2 linked regions of the Homo sapiens genome follow. The protein of the gene in region 1 purifies or fractionates together with the protein of each later gene. This does not show direct contact. Each region holds a gene or a part of one and is shown in the gene's direction. Other genes may lie near its edges.

The links. The genes of interacting proteins can lie anywhere in the genome.
Region 2: the proteins of CCDC85A (region 1) and GRK6 purify together in Homo sapiens (affinity purification with mass spectrometry; one large-scale study listed by BioGRID and IntAct). This does not show direct contact.

What each region holds. Positions count from the first base shown.
Region 1 is NC_000002.12:56,339,861-56,345,203, forward strand, and holds part of CCDC85A (coiled-coil domain-containing protein 85A), read left to right. Parts: intron 1-3,018; coding exon 3,019-3,095; intron 3,096-5,343. UniProt on the Homo sapiens protein: May play a role in cell-cell adhesion and epithelium development through its interaction with proteins of the beta-catenin family.
Region 2 is NC_000005.10:177,428,755-177,433,175, forward strand, and holds part of GRK6 (G protein-coupled receptor kinase 6), read left to right. Parts: intron 1-2,117; coding exon 2,118-2,213; intron 2,214-2,956; exon of another isoform or gene 2,957-3,182; coding exon of another isoform or gene 3,183-3,240; coding exon 3,241-3,353; intron 3,354-3,478; coding exon 3,479-3,556; intron 3,557-3,951; coding exon 3,952-4,052; intron 4,053-4,392; coding exon 4,393-4,421.

The sequences.
Region 1 (5,343 bases):
CATGAAATCAATAACTTTGCTATTCATTTATGCTGCATACTTTTCCCCTCTTTGGAAGAGTCCATAAAGCAGAGTTTTAAGATTTTATTAAGCTAAAAAAATGAGAGGATATCTTTAGCAAATATCTTCAGTTTTCTTTACCTGTGTTTCTATTTTCTTATTTGAGAAATGCTCAAAGCTAATTGTCTCCAATGGTGTGAGGTCTGTGGGTCATCATGTTAATGTCAGTGATGGGGGCTTTCTGCACACTATTTTGGAAAACAGGCCTGCTCTAAGCTAGTCAGAGATGAGCTTAATTGTTGTATTTGTGAATTAAGGACTGATGCTTATGTATTTTAGAAAATAAAGTGTTAGCTCATTGCTTTAGAGGTCATAAAAATAGAATTGGGTTCATATAAACTATTTCCACATAAAATAATTGTGTTTCCATGATGAAATTCAGATCAGGGCATCAATATCCATCCTAACTGTGGATCCTTAGGGGCTCCAAACACTTAGGTGCACTACCGTATTGCCTCTTGCCCTTTTTGTGTGTCTGAGGCTGAAGAACATGAACACTGAGGAGGTTGTTCTGCTTCAATATTAACTATGGAAGTGTTACCAGTAGCGAAACCATATGAGTCTGCAGCAGCCCCAGTTCTTGCCCCTAATTCGACTGAGGGGCATAAAGCAGAAGAAGAAGCCGAGGCAAGTTTTAGAGCAGTAGTGAAAGTTTATTAAAAAGCTTTAGAATGGCTGTGCGTGGTAGCTCATGCCTGTAATCCCAGCACTTTGGGAGGCCGAGGCGGGAGGATCTTTTGAGGTCGGGAGTTCGAGACCAGCCTGACCAACATGGAGAAACCCTGTCTCTACTAAAAATACAAAAAATAGCCAGGCGTGGTGGCACATGCCTGTAATCCCAACTGCTAGGGAGGCTGAGGCAGGAGAATCGCTTGAACCTGGGAGGCGGAGGTTGTGGTGAGCCGAGATCGCGCCACTGCACTCCAGCCTGGGCAACAACAGTGAAACTCCATCTCAAAAAAAAAAAAAAAAAAAAAAGCTTTAGAGCAGGAATGAAAGGAAGTAAAGTACATTTGGAAGAGAGTCAGGGTCAGGTGGGTGACTTGAGAGATCAAGTGCACTGTTTGACCTTTTGACTTGGGTTTTATACATTGGCGTACTTCTGGGGTTTCATGTCCCTTCTACACTGATTCTTCCCTTGAGATGAACTGTCCACATGTGCAGTGGCCTGCTAGCTCTTGGGAGGGGAGCATGTGCAGTGTGTTTACTGAAGATGTATGCACGCTCACTTGAGGCATTCTTCCCTTAGCCGTCTCGCATTTCCAGAGGAAGATCATATACCAATTAAACTGCTATTTTTCCTCTTAGTACACACGCTTGAGACCACTCGCCCAACTCCAGAGATCTTACTGGGGAAGTGGTAATCAACAGTACCAGGTTTTTTCTATCTATTGGGTTGACTGCAACTAATTATTATTTTAGAGAGACAGTTAACAACCACCTGACTATCCCGTGATGGTTGCCTGACATTCTTGGTGGGTGGGCTTGCGGGGAGCCCTCTCCTGCCTTGCTCATGTTTGACTAGCTACCTAATGTAACAGAAGTGTGCTCTGGAGAAAGTCTATTGCTGTGTACCTTTCACTGCACCTGAAATATTTTGTTGTTGTGTGATGAATGAATTGCTACTATGTGATGATCTTGAATATTTTCACTTTAATGAAGAAGAGTTACTATCAGATTGTTCCCAGAAATAAAATTTTACTTTTCTTCACCTGTGACCCCTTTTCCTGACATAAAGCCATAAACTTTAGAGTTCAGTATGGAACAGAAGCTAAGCATGATAATGATTCTGAGCTTTCAGCTCATGCCTGAGCTTGTGAAGAAATGAAAAAAATAGTCAATTTCAGGTCTGCTCCTGGTTTACCTAAAGATGTGTGAAAAACTTGGGTCTCTGTCACAGTCAGCCAAAATCAGTCAAAATTCATTCTAACTCTAAATAGCTCTTTCATGTTTTTTCTGTCAATGTCTGTAAGTTTGTGAAAAGAACAAATATTTTTCTTAAGTCTTGAAATTTTTATTGGGAGAAATAAAGAGAACTGGATGTTTGAAAAATTTTGTTTTATTTTCTGTTTTTTTTTTTAATGTAGCTTTGTAGTTTATTTTGGTTATAGTTAACATTACAAAATAGTCTTGTATATGTAGAACAACTCATTGACAACTCAAAATGTACAAAATCAGAAGAAAAGAGTATAATTGTCTTCAAGATGCCTATTATTCTGAGGCTGGTTGGTGTGCAAAAAGCCTGCAGTCTCACCACCTATAATTTTCTCTAATACTTTTTTTTTTTTAAATTGACCTCAATACACTTTATTGCAGAACAGGAAATACTAAACATTTAAGAAAGATTTGTGGAAAACGATTTGACTTCAGAAAAATATTTGTTCCATCTTAAGAGGATCAAACTTCAGAAATATTTTTAAAAGTCTTCCTCTGAAATGTCTCAATTCTTAGTGATTAAAAATAGCTAAAAGGGCTTAGAGTAGTGGAGAGACTGGATTTCGGTATTAGATTCAGGTTTGAGTTCTGGTTTTGCCCTGTTCTAAGTGTGCGTGATTTTACTAATTAATAATGATGTTGGACTGCTTCTCTTAGGTTTATTTGTCTAGTGTGTTTCCACTTCTGACAAATATTTTCCATACCTTTACTTGTGTTTTCTTATTGGTTTGTAAGAGTTCTGTATAGAATCTTAATACTAATCGTCAATTGTGTGTACTACCACCTGTAAATATGCCAGTCTGTGTCTTATCTAATATTTCTTAACGTTGTAAAATTGTTCAAAACTGTTTTTAGTTTCAGTGGCTTCTGTTCTTATTTTTCTGGGAGATATTTTTTTTTCTCATTTTAAATAACAGACTAAATAGTCACTGTCTGATTTGAATAAATCAAGCCAGAAATATCCTGACAGTACACCAAACAAGACCTGTGTGTATAATGTGAGTTCTTTCTTTTTAATTTTAGAATCAACCTTGTCCTATGTTAGGCAGCTGGAGGCAAGAGTAAGACAGCTGGAGGAAGAAAATCGCATGCTGCCCCAGGTGGGTGACTTCCAGAAGCTCATAGCTAGTCAGTGCCATTTAAGTTGTAGTATTTTATTTGGAATTTAAAAGCTCAATGACGTTTTGTCTTTTAAATGATAGAAATCATTTTGTAAATAGCCATTCATCAATGTAGAGTGTGATTATGTTCCATGATGGCCATCATCTTATCCAGATTTCTAAGTGTTATACTAAAGGGTGCAGATATCTGAAATGAGAATGTGAAATAATTTTGAAAGGAAGAACAAAGGAGAAGGATAAAATAATGAGAAGTAGAAAATAAAGACATGTCGATAGTACTACTCATATACACCATGCATGTGGTTGGTGGATATAGGGAAGGTAATCTTATTTAAATAGAAAACTTGCTAATTTCTGAACTAGGCAAAGCTATAGGTAGTTGGAAGGTTTCGCATTATAATTAAATTAGTACATTCTAAAATTCTTTGTGGTATAATTGAACTCTTTCAGTGCAACAAAGTGATGACAGCAATTGACAGTTTTTGCTTTGGGACTTCATTTCTTTCCCCTTAATTAAAGTAAAGTGGCACTTTTTCCAGGATGTTTAATGTCTTCCCATACGTTTCACTTATAAAATTCTTTCCATGGGCTGTTAACTTGATGAGAATGATGCTGGTCTTTTGAGGAGGTGGTTTTCAGAAAATGTTTTGTTGAGGAGTTGAACAAATATGATTCTAGGTTGGTTTCCTTTTCAAGCATGTGGACAATAATATATTTTAATGTTTTATAACAAGAAGTTTTCCAAGAAATTAGTCACTAGGGTTCTTTCTACATTCTGGTAATTATTTCTGTTTCATAAATGACTAAGGCAAAATTATACCTCAAACAACTAGTAAGCAGTAGTTTAAATAAAAGGTCAAAGACTAACCAATCTTCAGGTTGGTATTTCAGGAGAAGAAATTTGAACATTAATGCAAAGACCCTTTAGAAAGACATTTTAGGTCTTTTTAATCTTGTTTTGTTTTTGAACTACTTTTGCTCATTAGTGATGATTTGGGCTATCAGGTACTGCACATAAGAATCCTTTTTTCTTTCTTCCATTGGCTAACAGTCTGCCCAGAAATCATGAGATTAAGTGAAATAAACCTACAGTAGTTGTCCCCCTTTTCAAGGGGAATACATTCCAAGACCCCAAGTGGATGCCTGAAACCACGGATAGTACCAAACCCTACAATACTATGTTTTCTTCTATACATAAATATATATGATAAAGTTTAATTCATGAATTAGACACAGTAAGAGATTAACAACACTAATAACAAAGTTATTATTAGTAAAGTACTATTAAATACAATAAGGGTTACTTGAACGCAAGCACTGAGATGCTGTGACCATTGGTCTGATCATCGAGATGGCCATTAAGTGACTAACAGGCAGGAAGTGTAGACAGCATGGATTCATCCCAGGTGGGATGGAGCAGGACAGCATGAGATTTCCTCACACTACTCAAAACGGCCCACAATTTAAAACTTGTTTATTTCTGGAATTTTCCATTTAATATTTTTGGGCCCTGATTGACTACAAGTAACAGAAACTGAGGCTAAGGGTGGAATTCTGTACTTCTATCTCTTCTCAAACTGTACATGTGTTAAAATTCATGATGACAGAAGAGATTGTGTCATGAAATAAAATACTACTGGTGGGTTTGTTTTCTCTTTGCTCTTCATTGTTTTCCTTTTAAAATTTTTTTGTGTTCCTTTTTGCCTTTTATGTTAAATTCACAGTATGACTGTCCTAAGGCCCTTGACTGAAAACATCTAACTTCTTACTTGTTACAAAGAAACCTACAAAATCTAGTTAGTTTATTATACATGGTTGTGCCATCTCTCAGGCGACTGGGAATGTAAAAGAAATAGAAAAAAAATCCAAGTGATTTTTGTTCTTAGTTTCCTTCTGAGAAGGAATTGAGGCTGACATCAAACAGCAAACTAATAGCATGTATGCCATCTTATCAAAAAAAAAAAGAGGCACAACAAATGTGAAAATGATGACAAGGCTGATTCTTAAAAACCTGTGAAAGTGAGTGTTAGAAGTCTTGAAGGAAAATCAGAAGAGTCCTTAACTATACTTGATGTGTCTATGTGTATTGGAATACATAGTACTTGCATAGTTAAGACTAAGCAAGATTAAACAACTACTCAATTTAAAGTGTTCAGTTATATCCTTTGAAATACATTACTATTTTGCTACCAAGGAAGGTTTTTTGGTTCATTTTGTTTTGTTTCAT
Region 2 (4,421 bases), on another chromosome or scaffold:
CTTCAGTACCCCTTTTTGTGGAACGGTTGGGGGTGGGACATAAAGACTAAAGGAAACCCTGATTGTCACTGAGTCCTGAGCCCAGGCGCCTGGACGGGCTGCATCAGAACCACCTCATGAACTGGCTTTTCATGAGCTTGAGGCTGGGGCCCCTGACGGCTTCTCAAGTGATCTGAGGCCCCAGGTGGGGTTTGGGAACCCTTGGTGTGTGTATACAGTTGGCACCTAATAGATGCCAGCCATGTTTGGGGTGGGAAAGGAGCTTGGGTTGTGGCCATAGGGAGCTGGGTACGAATCCTGTACCCAGGATTGGTCTCTGGGCTTGGTCATCTTGGGTATACTCTGGGCTTGGTCATCTTGGGTGAATTGATTCCTCACTTCAGAATCTCAGTTTTCATATAAAATTGGGCCTGCTCTGGCAGAGTTGCTGTGAGGATGGAGTGGGACAACGCTGGGGCTTGAGACCTCCCTCAGTACCCCTTCTCTTCCCAGGCACTCAGAGGCATGGGGAGGGGGCCCAGGGACACTGAAAGGGGACAGGGAGGGTGGGGAAGAGCTCCACTGACTGGGCAGCCCAGGACAGGATATTTGCATGTGACTCTTTGCTGCTGCCTTGATGTGGCTGGGAGGGGGGAGGAGGAAGTAACTGAGGGTGGGAGGCTGGCGGATGGAGGGTTGGGTGAGGGACCTGTGGGTGTGGGGGAGGAGTTCCCCTTCTGGGAAGGCCTTGCCCTGGGTTGAGGGGTGGGTGTCTGTTGCTCACTCACAGTGAAGCAATGACTGCAGGGCATGTTCGCAGGAGGCCTCTAGCAAGTTTCTCAATGGGCCCCTGCAGTACTTCCTTCTCCAGGCAGCTTAGGTCGGGGAGTCATCTAGGGACCTAGCCTTGCCCCCTCCCTAGAAGGCAACTTCTGCCCTTGTACCACCTGCCCTCACCCAGGCCAGATGGATACAGGACTAGAAAGCCAGAGGGGAAACTGAGGCCCAGCATGAGAAAGTGGTTGTCTAAGGTTGCCATGGCGTTGTTGGAGTTGGGGTTCACCTCTTGACTCAGCCCTACTTGATGTGGACAGTGTCTCCCATTCACTACGTAACACACATGGAGAAGCTGAGGTTCACAGATAGCGAGTGATGGGCCACAGTGTGAATCAGAGATTCAGACCCAGCTCTGGGAGGCTCAGGCCCCTTCCACCCTCCTCAACCTGGTGGCCCACAGGCCACACACATTTGGCTAGCTCCCTGACACATTTTATTTGGCTGCAGTGAGTTTTTTTTTTTTTTTAAACAAAATGGGGGCCAATATTTTATGTTAGAGTCTGCAATTCCGGCTGCTTTTGAAAAAATCAGAAGAGCTGGCCACATTGAGCCAGAAACCCTCCTAGCAGCAATCAAGCAATCAGCTGGCGTTCTCCTGCAGCTGGCCCTGTCAGAGAGGCCTTCGCTGTTCCTGGTCATCTCACATCTGGCCCACGTTTCCCACACCTGTTGGGCTCTGCAGGCAATCGAACTGCTGCTGTGACCTCAGCTGCTGCAGATGGGGTGTCTGCGAGGTCAAGCAAGACAGGCAGGGGACCGGGGAAGCCCCAGTGTGCAGGGGACGGGGAGTCCTGGGTGCCAGCCCCCTTGCCCCTGCCTCATTTGAGCGTCTGATATCTCTGATGTGGGGCCTGGTGATAGAGGCCTGGGAGCCTCCTTGTCCCCATGCTGCCCTGTGCGTCTCTCAGGCCTGCCCCACTGGCCTAGAATCTCTCCCTCCCGGGCCTTCTGCACTTCTCAGCACTGTGACGTCCTTCTCCCCTTTCTTCACCGGGGGAACTCCTACCTGGCGGGAAGCAACTGGGGCTGGACCCATTGTTGGAGCTACTTGGAACACTGTCCTCCCGCAGCGACCTCACTGCCTCTCTTGGCTCTCCCAGTGCAGGAGCCTGAAGCAGGAGAAGCACGTGTGTCCTGGAACGCAGCAAGGGCGTGCTGGAGCGTGCAGAGGGAAGGCCTGAGGTGCTGTTCTGCCTCAGCTCTGCCTTGGCTGGGCCCTAGAGGCCGTGGACCGCACTGAGGACCCAGAGGCAGTTCTGAGGCAGTGGGACTCGAGACCCAGTGTCCTATTGCTCCCACAGGTGGCGGTGGAAATCGCAAAGGCAAAAGCAAGAAATGGCGGCAGATGCTCCAGTTCCCTCACATCAGCCAGTGCGAAGAGCTGCGGCTCAGCCTCGGTGAGGCCTGGGCAGAGACTGGGGGTGCTGAGGCGAGGGGCCCTGCTGGGGCCGGGGGAGCCTCCCCTGAGACCTTGCCCCGGAGCAGAGGGGCAGACTTGGGGGCTCCAGTGAGCAGGAGGATGAGGACTGCACCATTCAGCCCAGTTTCAGTTCCTGGGCTTGGGACGGGTGGAGAGCAGACAGCAAACAGGGTCACACCGAGGGTGGTTGAAGCGGGTGTCGGGAATAGGGCAGGGGCAGATTGGGGCAGTTGATTCCACTTTGAAAAGGAGAGCCAGCTAGGGTGAGCAGGGCCCACAGGACAGAGGGAGCAGCAGCTGGGCCAGCCCACAGACTGACTGCCTTGGGACCCCCAGGCTGGGGCGTAGCCTCCCAGGCCCAGCCCTGAGGGGTGCCCAGCAAATCCTTGACCAGAAGCCCTCAGCCTGGGCAGTGTGACAGGGTTACTCCTGGGAGGGGACAGAAGGGCCCAGGACCCCAGTTCCTGCCAATCTTGGCCAAGGCCCCAGGTCTGAGCAGCACCCAAGGTTGCTGAGGCCCCCGGTGGCCTGCACGTGCGCAGAGCACACCCGGGCTGCTTCCACCTCCTGGGAAGGAGGCCCAGCTGAGAGCCTGCCGGAAGCCACAGCTTCCTCTCGCACTTTCGCCAGGCAGGCAGCAGGTGTGGGCCTGGCCCCGGCTGGGCTGGGCCGGAACCTCACGGACCGCACCCAACCCCAGTACCGTGACATACGCAAGTCGTGTAAATCAGGAGACAATGCAGGGAGGTGGATGGAGGCCTGGGCTCTGGAGCCAGACTCCCGGCTGTGTGACACTGAGCTAGTCAGTTAGCCTCTCTGGGCCTCACAGCCCCAAAACAGCTGTGCCCACCTGAGGGTTGTGGTGAGGGTTCTGAAGAAGATTGTGGCTACCACACTGCAGAGCTGGAAGCTGTTGTGGGGGCCCAGGGCCTGGTGGTGTGGGCACATGCCCCACCCATGTGCTCTCGGGCTGTGGACCCAGCAGCTTCCATCACTGCCAACAGAGCGTGACTATCACAGCCTGTGCGAGCGGCAGCCCATTGGGCGCCTGCTGTTCCGAGAGTTCTGTGCCACGAGGCCGGAGCTGAGCCGCTGCGTCGCCTTCCTGGATGGGGTGGTGAGTGCAGCCCAGCCCTGCCCAGCCCCGCGGGTGGCCGAGGTCCTGGCCCCATGTGCCCCTCCTCCCCACACCTGCTGCTTGCCCTGCCCAGACCTCCAGCTTCTTTGCTTTCCACCCTGCAGGCCGAGTATGAAGTGACCCCGGATGACAAGCGGAAGGCATGTGGGCGGCAGCTAACGCAGAATTTTCTGAGCCACACGGTGAGTGAGCAGCGATGGAGAGATGATGGGAGCCACCAGAGCCCCGTGTCAGGCACAGGAGTGACCACAGTGTCAGGCTTCTGAGGGTGGTCTCTTCATACAGACACATGTAACACACAGCCTGGACAGAGAGTGCCCTGGAGCTGCTCCAGGCAGCACGGCGGGCATGCAGCCCAGGGTATGGGCTGGGCTTGGGCCAGGCGGCCTCCCAGTGGCTCTGCTGCGCTCTGCCTCATGGGTGGGCAGCAGGAAGGACTTCAGCAACCAGGCTGGCTGGCACACCCTGGCCTGCAGCCTCTCATGGCACCAGCCCGAGTTGCCTGACCCCTCTCCCCTGGAAGTGGGCAGCCATCCAAGGGAGCCCCTGCACTGACCTGTCTGGGGCTTGTTCCCAGGGTCCTGACCTCATCCCTGAGGTCCCCCGGCAGCTGGTGACGAACTGCACCCAGCGGCTGGAGCAGGGTCCCTGCAAAGACCTTTTCCAGGAACTCACCCGGTAAGCCTGTCCCTGCCCACAAGCCTGGAATTATGCCCAGCGGAGGGGGCTTCTGGGGGCCAGGAAGACTGTGAACAGCTCGGTGGCTGGTGAGGGAGCTCAGCTGCCCAGCCCTGGCCTTGCCCCTGCTGTGTGACCTGAGCAGGCTGCCTCCCCTCTCAGTAGCACCCACAGCTTCAGCACAGGCTGTGTGTCTCCCCGCTCAGGGGTTAGCAGGAGGACTGGCCGACGACGATACCTGTGGGCTAAGCCTGTACAGAACGGGAGGCCTGGCCCAGCAAGCCAAGAGCCTGAGGTGTCAGGGGCTGGCGGGTGAGCTGGGCCTGCCTTTCCTCAACAGGCTGACCCACGAGTACCTGAGCGTGGCCC